Linked DNA regions of Homo sapiens. The gene in region 4 interacts genetically with the main gene of each other region. Each region holds a gene or a part of one and is shown on either strand. Other genes may lie near its edges.

Region 1 (3,500 bases), on a different chromosome or scaffold from region 4:
AGAAAATTGCTTGAACCCAGAAGGCAGAAGTTGCAGTGAGCCGAGATTGCGCCACTGTACTCCAGCCTGGGTGACAGAGCAAGACTCCATCTAAAAAAAAAAAAAAAAAAAGGAGAAAGCAGGGCTATCCAGATGGTTTCAGAAGGTTATTTGTTACTTAAATCTTCCTAATAACATTTGTTTCTCAACATTATTTTAACATAAGAAAAAAGGCCAGCACTGTGGCTCACACCTGTAATCCCAATGTGCTTTGGGAGGCTGAGGCAGGAGGATCACTTGAGATTAGGAGTTCAAAACCAGCTTGGGTAACGTAGCAAGACCTCATCTCTACAAAATGTTTTTTTTAAATAGCCAGGCATGGTGGTGTGGGCCTATAGTCTCAGCTACTCCGGAGGCCAAGGTGGGAGGATCACTTGAGACCAGGAGTTCAAGGCTGCAGTGAACTATGATCATGTACCATTGTACTCAGCCTGCGTGTCTCTTAAAAAAAAAAAAACAAAAAAAAAACCACCAAAAGCTTTATTTCTTAAATTTAACATGCAAATTTGTATTACTGCACTTCAGTATAGATGCCTAGCTCATTGTAATCAGTTGGTTGGATAAGTGTGCATCACTTCCTTTCATATTTTGTATGTGAGTTTACAAATATATATGTATATACATGTTTTATTTTTAGTTTCTCCCTTGTTTTCCTCAAAAAGGTTAAGTGGTAGAATCAGGAATAAAACCCAGTCCTTCTGTCTCCACACCTTCCTTTTCAAGGTGTGTTTTAATTACATCTTCACTATTGTTGATAGTATACTAGGTTATGGAGCAATTTATCACTAGTTTTTAAGATGTAACAAAATGAAATCAGTTTAACTGTTGGGTGTTTAGATATTGTAATGTTTTTGTTAACATTTAAACTTGCTTTCTTATATCCCTTCTGTAGGCTGTTGAAGCCAAGGAAAAACAAGATGAACAAGTCGGACTTCCTGGGAAAGGGGGGAAGGCCAAGGGGAAAAAAACACAAATGGCTGAAGTTTTGCCTTCTCCGCGTGGTCAAAGAGTCATTCCACGAATAACCATAGAAATGAAAGCAGAGGCAGAAAAGAAAAATAAAAAGAAAATTAAGGTAATACTCTTGTGGTGGCTCACACCTATAATCCCAGCACTTTGGGGGCCAAGGTGGGTGGATCACTTGAGGTCAGTGGTTCAAGACCAGCCTCCCAACATGGTTGAAACCCTGTCTCTACTAAAAATTAAAAAAATTAGGCGGGCATGGTGGCAGGCGCCTGTAATCCCAGCTACTCGGGAGACTGAGGCAGAAGAATCGCTTGAACCCGGGAGGCAGAGGTTGCAGTGAGCCAAGGTCACACCACTGCACTCCAGCCTGGCCAACAGAGCAAAACTCCATCTCAAAAAAAAAAAAGAGGTAATACTCTTAAAAATATTATGCATAAAATATTGATGCATATGTCCACTTAAAATTGAAAAAAAAATGTATAAAATTTTTTTGTTGTTGTTGTTGAGATGGAGTCTCGCTGTGTTACCCAGGCTGGAGTGCAATGGCAGGATCTCAGCTCACAGCAACCTCCGCCTCCCGTATTCAAGCGATTCTCGTGCCTCAGCCTCCCAAGTAGTTGGGGGCACATCACCACACCCAGCTAATTTTTGTATTTTTAGTAGAGATGGGGTTTCACCATCTTGGCCAGGCTGGTCTCGAACTCCTGACCTCAAGAGATCTGCCCACCACGGCCTCCCAAAGTGCTGGGATTACAGGCGTGAGCCACCGCTCCCAGCCAAAAATGTATAAAATCTCTAATCCCATAGTTCAGAATTTATTCTATATCCAACCCTAACTTTGCTATCTTTTAGAATGAAAATACTGAAGGAAGCCCTCAAGAAGATGGTGTGGAACTAGAAGGCCTAAAACAAAGATTAGAAAAGAAACAGAAAAGAGAACCAGGTATTACAACATTTTTAGAAAAATGGTATAAAGTGAAGATTAAATTGTGTTTGTTACCTAGTACATTCCACATAGATGTTCAAAACCTTTTTGTTGAATTGAGAAACGTGAAAGAGGACTGTATCTCAATTCTACTTGGACCTCTTTTTTTTTTTTTTTTTTTTTTTGAGACAGTTTCACTCTTGTTGCCCAGGCTGGAGTGCAATAGCACAATCTCGGCTCACTGCAATCTTCACCTCCTGGGTTCAAGCGATTCTCCTGCCTCAGCTTCCTGAGTAGCTGGGATTATAGGTGCATGCCACCACGCCTGGCTGCTTTTTGTATTTTTAGTAGAGACGGGGTTTCACCATGTTAGTCAGGCTGGTCTCAAACTCCTGACCTTGTGATTTGCCCGCCTTGGCCTCCCAAAGTGCTGGGATTACAGGCGTGAGCCACTGCCCCTGGCCTGGACCTCTTTAATATCGTCCTTGGGATTTGATTCATTATAGAAAATATTTTGTAATGAAGTAGTTTGTTAATTTGAATTCCTTAATTGGGATCTAAGAAAATACCCAGTTTATTAGATTTCATTTTCTAGCCACTTACGAGGTTCTAGTATACAAAGTTTCTTAAGAAAAGTGACTACATATTAGTAATGTTTGTAGTATCTCTAGAGTTCAACATCATGCTTCGGATATAAATAATGTCCACTCAATGAACTAAATAGAATTAATAATTCTGTTAATCATTTGATAATGCCTTTACTGTCTACTTTTTTTGAAACATCTTTATTGAGATATTCACATGCCAAATTTGCCCATTTAACGTATACCATTTGGCTGGGCGCCATGGCTTATGCCTGTAATCCCAGCACTTTGGGAGGCTGAGGCTGGCGGATCACTTGAGGTCAGGAGTTCAAGACCACCCTGGCCAACATGGTGAAACCCCATCTCTACTAAAAATACAAAAATTAGTTGAGTGTGGTGGTGCGTGCCTGTAGTCCCAGCTACTCGAGAGGCTGAGGCACGAGTGTCGCTTGAACCCAGGAGGCAGAGGTTGCAGAGAGCCAAGACTGTGCCATTGCACTCCAGCCTGGGTGACAGAGCAAGACTCCAACTCAAAAATAAAAATAAAGTATGCCATTCAGTGGTTTTAGTATAGACAAACAGTTTTAATACAATTTATTGCCCCCCAAGAAAACTGAACTCATTAACAATCATTTGCCATTTGCCACCAACTCCTCTCCACTGGGTGACCACTAAAAAATCTAGGGGCATTTCCTATAAATTAAATCATATAATATGTGGTCTTTTGGAGCTGACTTCTTTACTTAACACATTTTCAAGGGTAACCCATGTGGCAGCCCATATATTAGTACTTCATTCTTTTTTTTTTTTTTTTTTTGAGGCAGAGTTTCGCTCTGTCGCCCAGGCTGGCATGCAGTATGCAGTAGTAGTGAGATCTCGGCTCACTGCAACCTCCGCCTGCTAGGTTCAGGCAATTCTCCTGCCTCAGCCTCCCGAGGAGCTGGGATTACAGGCACGCACCACCATGCCCAAATAATTTTTGTATT
Region 2 (4,103 bases), on a different chromosome or scaffold from region 4:
TTGCATTTCCTTCATAGTGATGTCAAACATTCTTTTCAGAGCTAATTTGCTATCAGTGTATCCTCTGTAGTGAAATGTTTCTATGTTTTTTGCCCATTTTCTAATTGGATATTTTTTAACTGAGTTTACAGAGTTCTTTACTCTAGGTATGAGTCTTTTGCCAGATATGTGGTTTACATGTGTTTTCTCTGTCTATATTTTTCATCCTTTTAACAGGGCCTTTGGCAAACAAAAGCTTGTAATATTGATGTGTCAATCTGTCAAGTTTTTCTTTTATCAATATTCTTTGGTAAGAGCTATTCGGTAAGTTGAAGCCTTTCTCCTGTGGTTTTTCCTAAAAGTTTTATACTTTTATGTTTTACATTTAAATCAATGATCCTTTTTTGAGTTACTTGTTTAATGAGTGAATAATAAGTGGAGACTTTTTTTCTCTGAAATCCAATTGCTCCCCCAGATAACTATCTTATGAATCATGTCTATCACAAATTATCACTAGATAATCAACTTAATTTACTTTTTATTAAAACCAACCTGCTGAAAAGAATACAAATTTTGACTAGGAGGAGAAAGGGGGAGTGGATTTATGATTTTATGGCAATTATAACAGGAGTGTTTCAATGGAGACTTTAGGCAACTAGAACTCAGCATGAAACCAGAAGGTAGAAGCTGATAAAGGCAGGGGTAAAAAGGAGAAAATGAGTTCAAAACAACTAACTTTCGGCCAGGCGTGGTGGCTCACACCTGTAATCCCAGCAATTTGTGAGGCCGAGGTGGGCGGATCACAAGGTCAGGAGATGGAGACCATCCTGGCTAACGTGGTGAAACCCCATCTCTACTAAATACAAAAAATTAGCCGGGTGTGACAGCATGTGCCTGTAGTCCCAGCTACTCAGGATGCTGAGGCAGGAGAATGGTGTGAACCCGGGAAGCAGAGCTTGCAGTGAGCAGAGATCGTGCCCCTGCACTCCAGCCTGGGCGAACAGAGCGAGACTATGTCTCAAAACAAAACAAAAACACTAGAGGGCAATTTTGCATGCAAATTATGCTAAGGCATAATTTTTAGTATTATCTTAGTATTTCTCAAAATGTAGTCATCTATGGATTTACTGAACAAATTTGCCATATCTGCTTATAATCATACACTACTTCATAATTTTTGACAACCATAAATAATATAATTTCCTTGACATGTTAATGGTATCATTGTAATTATCATGTGATGCTTTGGAGACTGATTATCATACTATGTGAGGCATTACAAAGAAAATCAAGACTCTTAGCAGACTGTGATCATTTTTCTTTCCCTAATAGATATGAGAGAAAATTACTGCTTGATTTTACTGTGAGAATTTGGATCCAGACCTACTGTCCTCATTAGGAATCAGAAATCAGAGAATCAGAAATCAGAATGAAATATCAAAATGATGCCCTAATGGCTATTGCAAAAGGAATATGTGGGTAGTTGGAGAGTGGAATACGTGACTCTGTTTTTGGAGCAGTATTCACATTTTTTATTTCGAGGTGTAAAATATACGTGGCCAACATTGTTACTTTCATCCACAGATGGAATAGCTGGGAAGTATAAAAACCTGTACATGACCTTTAGTGAAGATTATTTGTCATCAAATTACCCATATCCAAGTTTCCATGGGCCTGGAATTTCCTTTCCACTTGATAGAAGTATATATTAGGAAGTCCAGTTAATAATATTTTTATTTAAAAAAAAAAAAAAGGAAAAAAGAATCAGCAGAGTCAAGTTGTCTTAGTCTTAAGGCTTTCTGGATTTCTTCCTTGGAGGAGGTCAGGATCTTCCCAAGGCCTGGGTCCTCGAATATTCTTCCAGTCATCAAACTTGGAGTCTTTGATTTTCTATAGAACCACAAAAAATTAAAGTATAAATATTAGTATAAGAGCCTGTGGCTTTGATTAGGACACAACTAACTCAATGAATAAATGAGTAGAAAGTATCCGATAGGTCCTCGATTACAACTGTAGCAAATAAATCAACTACAATCATTGATGAAATGTCATCTTAAGATTTAGAACTTTTCATTTGTTACTGATGTTAATGCCTATCTTACGCCACCTTAACCGTAAAACTATTAAAATAGAGAAAGAGTCTACATGCCTTATTTTTGAGAGGACAAGGAAAAGGCTGAAGCTGGGAAAACAAAAGTACAAATCTGAAGGCTGATCCAGCACAGTGACTGAAAGGGTTATCAGGGATGATGGTAGAAAATAAGAAGAAAAGAACAAAGGGTGGAGACCCTAAAGTCTTCTACAAAAAAGAAAAGAGACCAAGATCATTTGTCTTACGCCTGGGCTTAGGAATGAAAAGACTTTCCTACAGCTATCTATCATAAGCAAAACACTTTTGGGCAACTGAAACTAACTGCAACTACATTATGGATCATCCTACCTTCATTTAGTCTGAAGTACCTCTCAAGCACAAAAATAGTTGGAATAAAAGGGAAGAAATAAATGTTTCTTCACCTTTCTCCTACTGACCACCACTCTGACATTAACTTTTACATATCTGCTGTTTTGGTTGTTCTGAAATAATTGAGTAAGATGGAAAAAAAAAGCTGTGAAAACATAGGATAGCTTATATCCAGAGACAGGGAAAATGGAATAAATTTACCTTGACACTTGGATACTAAGCATTACTCTCTTACTAACTAGCTATATAACCTTTGGAAAGTAATTTAAGCCACCTGGGCATTAACTCTCTCATAAGTAACAATGAAAAGGTTGGACCAAATACTCTACATTTGAGAGTCTTCAGCTCTCAAATTCTACAGGTCCTAGAAGAACTAGAAGGAAAATCTACTCCCAGACAAACTCTTCATAGCATCATTACTGGTATAGCACTTGTAGAACTACAAGTTAGCAAGTTACAGGATTTTTTTTTTTAATCAATGGGAAAGTAGTAAATGAAAATACTGTTCACTTATAGTTTTACCAGGAGTCTGTATTACATATATACATGAAGGAACAAAATTCAACTAATTTAGCATACAAGAAGAATTTAGATTATTTCATAAGTATAGTTATGAAATGATCTAAAGTTATTAAAAGATTTTAATAAAGAATAATGGCCATTATCCAGGTAACGTAAGATATGTATGCTTAACAGAACTGAAGAAAATTCTTAAATAACAAGTTCATGTAAAAGTAGTCTAGCCTTTACAGATCTTTGGTGAAGGAGATTCCTTGTAGAATTCTACAAAACGTGCACAGTGGCTGAAGAATGGGCTATGTAAATGTGCTGAGAAAAACCACCCAAGACATAACACTTCACAGCCAACTGGTATAGGCCTGAGTGTGGAACAGCGTCAAGAAATGCTGAGAAAAAACAGTGTCAAGAATATGGAGTTTCCAGGCCTGCCAGAGTGGAGACCTTTCTTTTAACATTTTGTTGCTACCCTGACATCCACCTAAGACACCAAAAGGACTGTTCTTCAGGAGTAAAAATTATGCCTGAGAATAAGATTTTTTTTTTTTTTTTTTTTTTTTTGAGACGGAGTCTCGTTCTGTCACCCAGGCTGGAGTGCAGTGGCGCGATAAGATTTTCTTTAGACTCACCCCAACAAAGCTTAAAGCCAAGCCTTGACAAGATTCTCTGGGGAGATAGTCTGGAGATTGAGTCCCAACAAGGGAGAAGGGCCAAGGAAAGATAGCTAGCCCTTCAACAGATACTTCCCTACAAAGCACAAAATGAAGTTTAAGGTGATTAGCTAACAATTAAATTGTCAAAATAAAAATCAACACTCTTCAGAATTTTCTTCAGTGTATTATTCACAATGACTACCTTTCAATACAAAATGACCAGACATATACAAAGAAACAGGAAAATATAATCCAGTCAAAAAAATGACAAACTCAAAGACATGAAGAACATCCTCACCACATCCCATAATATAGCGTGCTGTTAAACTCCTTGATTTTTGCTAATTAGATGGGTGAAAAGTGATACCTCGTTAGACTTTGACATTCCTATTATGATAAATTGAGCATCTCTTCATATGTTTAAGAATGATACTTATTTCCTTTTGTCCAAAAGTTTTACATGCTATGCTTTCCCATGTTCTTACTGAACAAAT
Region 3 (3,500 bases), on a different chromosome or scaffold from region 4:
CAGCCTGGGTGACAAAGCAAGACTCCGTCTCAAAAAAAAAGGACGGGTTCTCATTCTGTCACCCAGGCTGGGGTACCGTGGCACCATCTCGGCTCACTGCAACCTCCGCCTCCTGGGCTCAAGGCCATCCTCCCACCTTAGCCTCCCAAGTATCTGAGACTACAGGCACGTGCTACTGCTCATGGCTGATTTACTTATTTATTTTTGTGCTTTTCATAGAGACAGGTTGTTGTGTTTCTTTAGTCTCCTTTAAGAGTGCAGATGAGCTATTTTGTAGAATGCCCCTCAGTTTTGGGTCATGCATTTTTAACATGAATACCAGAAAAGCACTTCATTGTATTAGAAGGCACTTCTGGAGCCAGGTATGGTGCCTCATGCCGTAATCCCAGCTCTTTGGGAGGCTGAGGCAGGAGGATCATTTGAGCCCAGGAGTTTGAAACCAGCCTGGGCAAATAGTGGGACCCCTTCTCTACAAAAAATTTAAAAATCAACCAGGTGTGGTGGTGTATGCCTGTGGCCCACCTACTGTGTGCCAGCTACTCAGTAGTGCCAGCTACTCAGGACCTGGCTGAGGTGAGAGGATCACCTGAGACAAGGAAGTTGAATTTGCAGTGAGGCATGATTACACCATTGCACTTCAGCCTGAGTGACAGAGTGATGACACCATCTCTTAATTTTAAAAGAGTCAGCTTATATTCCTTGGAGAAACATCTTTTTTGCACCATTGTTATGATTCAGACAGAATCCTTCCATGATTTTTTTTTTTTTTTTTTAATTTTTAGAGAAAGGGTCTCACTCTGTCACCCAGGCTGGAATGCATTGGCTCGGTCACAGCTCACTGCAGCCTCCAATCCCTGGGCTTAAGTGATCCTCCCACCTCAGCCTCCCGAGTAGCTGGGACTGCAGGTGTGAGCCACCATGTGTGGCAAAATAATAATAATAATGATAATAATAATAATAATTAGTTAATACCCAGTGTTGTTGAGGACATGAGGAAATGCATTTTCTTTCACATGCTGCTATTAGGAGTGTAACAGTGCAACTGCAGTCATAGTTCACTGCAGCCTCAAACTCCTGGCCTCAAGCAGTACTCCCACCTCAGCCTCCCAAAGTATCCTCCCATGACTTCTAACAGGATTCCTTTAAAAGAAAACATATTCCTGAAAAATGAATAGGAAAAGAAGATGAGAATTCTTTTATTTTATTTTATTTGTTATGTTATGTTATATGTTATGTTATGTTTTATGTTATGTTTATGTTATGTTATGTTATGTTATGTTATGTTATGTTATGTTATGTTATATGTTATGTTATGTTATTTTTGGAGATGGAGTCTCCCTGTGTTGCCCAGGCTGGAGTGCAGTGGTGCAATCTCGGCTCACTGCAACCTCTGCCTCCTAGGTTCAAGCAATTCTCCTGCCTCTGCCTCCCAAGTAGCTGGAACTATGGGTGCCCACCACCACGCCCGGCTAATTTTTGTAGTTTTAGTAGAGACAGGGTTTCACTATGTTGGCCAGGCTGATCTTGAACTTCTGACATCAGGTGATTCGCCCGTCTCGGCATCCCAAAGTGCTGGGATTACAGACGTGAGCCACCATGCCCAGCTGAGAATATTTTAGAAGAGATTGGTAAAATATGATGGAGCTAGCACACACTCCCCCAAACCCAGAAAAGGTTTTTAGACCTTTTTTCTTTTTCCAGCTCCAATTTATGACAATTCTAAATCTGTCTCTCAAATTGTTTCAAAAAAGGACGGATGTATACTTTGGAAATTCTAATTTAATAAGTTAATCAACTTTGTGGGTTTGTTGTTGTTTTGAGACAGAGTCTCGCTCTGTCACCCAGGCTGGAGTGCAGTGGCACGATCTTGGCTCACTGCAACCTCTGCCTCCTGGGTTCAAGCAATTCTCCTGCCTCAGCCTCCCACGTAGCTGGGATTACGGGCACCCACTACCATGCCCGGCTAATTTTTTTGTATTTTTAGTAGAGATGGGGTTTCACCATGTTGGCCAGGCTAGTCTCAAACTCCTGGCCTCAAGTGATCCGCCCGCCTCGGCCTCCCAAAGTGCTGGGATTACAGGCATTAGCCACTGTGCCCAGCCCAAGTTAATCAACTATGAAGAGAAAAATAAAATCACATAATCTTGGTTGTTCAGCCTCTCATAAGAAAGCCAAATTGTTTTTTGCTTTTCCATGTTGTTTACTTGTATTTCTGAATTGTAGAGTCAAAGGAGAAGTTCAGAGTCCCATCAGCAATGCACCTGTCATACAGGAAGATCTCATCATGTCCTGTAACACCAGATACCATTTTCAGTCTTTTCTCTCTTTCTCCTGCAGGGCTACACCAAGTCCATTGATATTTGGTCTGTAGGCTGCATTCTGGCAGAAATGCTTTCTAACAGGCCCATCTTTCCAGGGAAGCATTATCTTGACCAGCTGAACCACATTTTGGGTAAGGTTCCCGAGCCCTTCAGGAGCTAGATTTACTCAAGTTTGTACAGCTTACATCAAAGTCACTTCATTAAATTAAGAAGAGTTCTAATATACTCTTTAACCTGTGGTAGGTGTGAATTTTTAACCTTCTCTGATTTAAAATGTTAAGGACTTTTGTGTAAAAACATAAGAAAGGTAAACATCAGGAGTGGTGATAAGCAACGGCTCATATCAATTATCAGGGTTCATTCCGACTCAGAGTTGATGGTGTGTAGTCATTTACCTTGGTCCTGATAACTAATAGCTAATTTTTTTATCTGATAGGTATTCTTGGATCCCCATCACAAGAAGACCTGAATTGTATAATAAATTTAAAAGCTAGGAACTATTTGCTTTCTCTTCCACACAAAAATAAGGTGCCATGGAACAGGCTGTTCCCAAATGCTGACTCCAAAGGTAAATGTTATTTCGTTGATTAGTTTTTTCTTAGGCTTAGCTTCGCGTTTATTTGTTAAATTGTTAGGTCACTAGCCTGAAAAATGAGCCTATGGCTATTGGATAATGCTTTCTTTAGTGCTCACTCTGAATTGTTGTCTTCCCCCTTTTTTTTTTTGGAAACAGTGGCAGTGCAGTAAGGGAACCTGGTAATGACGGTCTAGTTCTCCACCTTTTGGTTTCTTTGCTAATTTTAATTTGCATTAAGGTCACTTTTTTTTTGTTTTTGTTTGAGACAGTGTCTCACTCTGTCGCCCAGGCTGGAGTGTAGTGGCCCGATCTCGGCTCACTGCAACCTCCTCCTCCCGGGTTCAAGCGATTCTTCTGCCTCAGCCTCCCAAGTAACTGGGACTACAGACGCGTACCACCACGCCTGGCTCATTTTTGTATTTTTAGTAGAGACAGGGTTTCACCATGCTGGCCAGGCTGGTCTCGAACTCCTGACCTTTTGATCTGCCCACCTTGGCCTCCCAAAACTGGGATTACAGGCGTGAGCCACAGCGTTCAGCCTAAGGTCACATTTTTAGGTCTCAGGAAGTCTAGGACCCTGCAAACAAATTACACCTTTTCAT
Region 4 (3,500 bases):
AAGGCTAACGAGTAGCCACAACTACACATTAAATATAGTTCTCCACCTTCATGATTTTCATTCATTCTATACATATTTATGGAGCCAGGCACTCAATATACAACACTGAATAAGAAAGATGCAGGCCCTGCCCTCGCAGAACTTGGAGGCTAGGGAGAAAGAGCTGGCAATTATAAGGGGTAAATACAGAGTAGTGTATGCTGCTATCAGAACACTTATAAAAGCGACCCTTCACTAACACATGGGAGGCTTCCTAGGGGAAGGTGATGCTAAGCTAAAATTTTCCTATTTATCACGAGTCTCTGGAACCCCACTACCCTGCTCACACTCCTTGGACAAGCTCCAAGTTTGAATCAAACAACCCAGATTCCTCTGACCAGTACAAGTTAACACACTGGAAAGATTATTGGGTGGATTATTGCCTTTATCTGTGACTCCCCCAGTTCTCTTTCTTTTGGCAATCACCCTGGATTTGCAATCAACTAAACCTTTATGTCATTCTTCAACATGAAGTACTTTAAAACAAAATTTCATCTCTTCTTATTCTACAGATCCATAATTTCCATAAAAATCTAGAGTCAGGCCTTTCTCACTATTAAAAGTTACATTGTCAGTTTTAGCCCAAGCTACAGTGGCCTTTATGGATCTCAGTTCTGTCATCCATAGTATTGCTATCCCAACTTTGTTAACTGTTAATATGATTAGCATGTATTCTCTTCCTTCACCCTCAGTCACCAGTAAAGTGTTGAAGGGCAGAGCCCTTCAGCTTGTTACCAATATATTCTTCTAGACTGAAGTCACTTCATTAGTCACTTCTGAAATGTCACTGTTCACCCAGCTACATTCATCTGCCAGCACTGCCCACGCTTCTCCACTGGAATCAATGACTATCATGCGAATCTATCAAATGACTTGCTGAAATCCAGACATACACTGTTGTGTCACTTGCTATATCTAACAGGCATATAACGGAATGCAAAAAATGAAATAAGTGAAGTTTGGTATGACTTCTTTTTATTCAACCCGCGCTGATCACTTTAACAGCCTGCTCTACATTTTCTAATGTGGGATTCGAAATACTTGCTGCTAAGTCAGATTCTTTCTTCCTATCTTGTCAGGTGACGTGCCCAGCAGTCCTGACCAGAGGACCACAGACATGCTGGAACAGTGCGCCTTGCGCATCCAGCTGCGGGATAACTTTAAACAAAGAGAGACATGGTCCATAGCTAAGAATGCCTAGGACCTAGTCAAGTTTTAGCTCCAACATTTACTAGCTATGTGATTACCTGGCATGATACTGCTTCCTGGTTCATTTTCAGGCAAGATCAATTCTCCCAGACCTGACCGAGGACCAGAACCCAAAAATCGAATATCATTTGCTATCTTCATCAGACTGCAGGCAGTAGTGTTCATGGCTCCACTGAGCTCAACCAGAGCGTCATGAGCAGCCAGAGCTTCAAATTTATTCGGAGCAGTGACAAAAGGCAAGCCTAAAGAAAAGAAAAATATCCTAGATGGGTGAACAAGTTAAACTAAACATTTTTCTACCATTAGCAAGTGAAACAGAAAGTTCCAATATACGAAAAAATAAAAATTTTACTTCAGAAAAAAATGTTTACTTAAGACTCAAATTTTGTCTACATTTTTAAAAGAAGTCCTAAAGGAGTAGAAAGAATCTGGTATTACATTTTTTAAGTTTTTTCAGACAGGGTCTCACTCTGCTGCCCAGGCTGGAGTGCAGTGTGGCTCAATCACAGCTCACTGTAGCCTCAACCTCCATGGCTCAGGCAATCCTCCCACCTCAGCCTCCAGAGTAGCTAAGACTACAGGTGCACACCACCACGCCCAGCTAATTCTTTAATTTTTAGTAGAGATGGGGTTTCGCCATGTTGCCCAGGCTGGTCTCAAACTCCTAGGCTCTAGCGATCCACCCACCTTGGTCTCCTGAAGTGCTGGAATTACAGGAGTGTAATTCCACTGTGCTTAGCCAGGCACTACATTTTAAAAAGATGAAATAACAAGTATGATAAATGTACTGAAAGAAAAAACACAATCCTACTGCAAACACACGTATATGATGCCTGACTATGCTTGAGTAAAAAGTATATGGGAATTCATTCTGGTTTATACCACACTCCTTTCCTAATACCTTTTTTCTTTTTTTTTTTTTTGAGACAGAGTCTTGCTTTTTTAGCCAGGCTGGAGGGCAGTGGTACGATCTTGGCTCATTGCAACCTCCTCCTCCAGGGTTCCAGCAATTCTCCTGCCTCAGCCTCCCAAGTAGCTGGGGTTACAGGCGCCCGCCACCATGCCCGGCTAATTTTTTTAAATTTTTACTAGAGACAGGGTTTCGCCATGTTGACCAGGCTGGTCTCGAACTCCTGACCTCAAGTGATCTGCCCATCTTGGCCTCCCAAAGTGCTAGGATTACAGGTGTGAGCCCCCATGTCCGGCCCCTAATACAATTTTTTAAAGTTTCTTTGTCCACTTTACTGTGCTTCATCCTCTCCCCTAGCCAGGAGCCCACAAGATCCCCTATAAAAACAGTGTGCTAAAATGAGTTAGATGTTCTCAGTTAACCCCCATGTTAAAAATTTTATAAATCTACATTTGCCAAACCCTAAAAGTAGAGTTCTTTTCTATTAAAATATGGTTTAAAGACAAATCAGCTGGTAAGCTATCATGTGCAGTGTATAATTATCTCTACCCTAACCGTCTGGTAACATCTACATCTTAATGAGAGTTTTCTGAAGATGACAACTTGGCCCTAATAATAGTTATCATTATCTAAAGTATAATACTCTCTCTACTAAAGGAAAGACATGGTTCAAAAAGGTCAATAATTCAAAGAATTATCACAGCATGACATAATAGGAAAAAAAAGAAATTAAGTCTGTCTACAACATATTTACTATTCAAATAACTTACTCAACACTCAGTTTTTTCTGCCTATTTTGAAAACTGCTATTCAAAACTTTAAAGGGAAATTAATTGAAAACTAACTAGTAAACAAAGCTAACACTGGTAGATTTTAATGGCATGCTGTATAAACTCCTACATGGAACATTTTTTAAAAGGCAAATAATTAACATTATAACTTCAGAAATATACTTAAAACACATGTTTGATGGAAAAATATCATTTCTAACTTTAAATTCACAAGAATTCAAGACAGGAACACTCAGAAAATGTACAGACCACGTATAATGAGAAATGAAAATGAGAAATAATTCACGTGATCACTAACCTGTAAGTGCAGCCACTTTTGCAGCAACCTTTTCTGCAAAGCCAATTCTAGTATTTAAACCTGTACCAACAGCAGTGCCTCCAGCTGCGAGCTCATAGATTCTTGGCATGGCAGCTTTTATTCTTGTCATTGCATATTTTACTTGTTGAACATAACCACTAAATTCCTGAAAAGAAAAGAAAATTAAGGTAAGAATAAGTAATTCCTAATAGCTTACAAGTTACTCTAACTGCATTAAATAGAAATTTTTAAA

What was found.
Region 1: changes in FH (region 4) and TOP2A are lethal when combined (synthetic lethality), as found in Homo sapiens cells (one large-scale study listed by BioGRID).
Region 2: changes in FH (region 4) and COX16 together harm fitness less than expected from each alone (positive genetic interaction), as found in Homo sapiens cells (one large-scale study listed by BioGRID).
Region 3: changes in FH (region 4) and MAPK1 are lethal when combined (synthetic lethality), as found in Homo sapiens cells (one large-scale study listed by BioGRID).

What each region holds. Positions count from the first base shown.
Region 1 is NC_000017.11:40,393,897-40,397,396, reverse strand, and holds part of TOP2A (DNA topoisomerase 2-alpha), read left to right. Parts: intron 1-931; coding exon 932-1,114; intron 1,115-1,857; coding exon 1,858-1,948; intron 1,949-3,500. UniProt on the Homo sapiens protein: Key decatenating enzyme that alters DNA topology by binding to two double-stranded DNA molecules, generating a double-stranded break in one of the strands, passing the intact strand through the broken strand, and religating the broken strand.
Region 2 is NC_000014.9:70,324,581-70,328,683, forward strand, and holds the end of COX16 (cytochrome c oxidase assembly protein COX16 homolog, mitochondrial isoform 1 precursor), read right to left. Parts: intron 1,870-4,103; coding exon 1,753-1,869; 3' UTR 501-1,752; downstream 1-500. Other genes in the region: SYNJ2BP-COX16 protein, read right to left, coding at 1,753-1,869.
Region 3 is NC_000022.11:21,787,646-21,791,145, reverse strand, and holds part of MAPK1 (mitogen-activated protein kinase 1), read left to right. Parts: intron 1-2,337; coding exon 2,338-2,452; intron 2,453-2,757; coding exon 2,758-2,889; intron 2,890-3,500. UniProt on the Homo sapiens protein: Serine/threonine kinase which acts as an essential component of the MAP kinase signal transduction pathway. MAPK1/ERK2 and MAPK3/ERK1 are the 2 MAPKs which play an important role in the MAPK/ERK cascade.
Region 4 is NC_000001.11:241,502,756-241,506,255, forward strand, and holds part of FH (fumarate hydratase, mitochondrial), read right to left. Parts: intron 3,414-3,500; coding exon 3,248-3,413; intron 1,491-3,247; coding exon 1,287-1,490; intron 1-1,286. UniProt on the Homo sapiens protein: Catalyzes the reversible stereospecific interconversion of fumarate to L-malate. Experiments in other species have demonstrated that specific isoforms of this protein act in defined pathways and favor one direction over the other.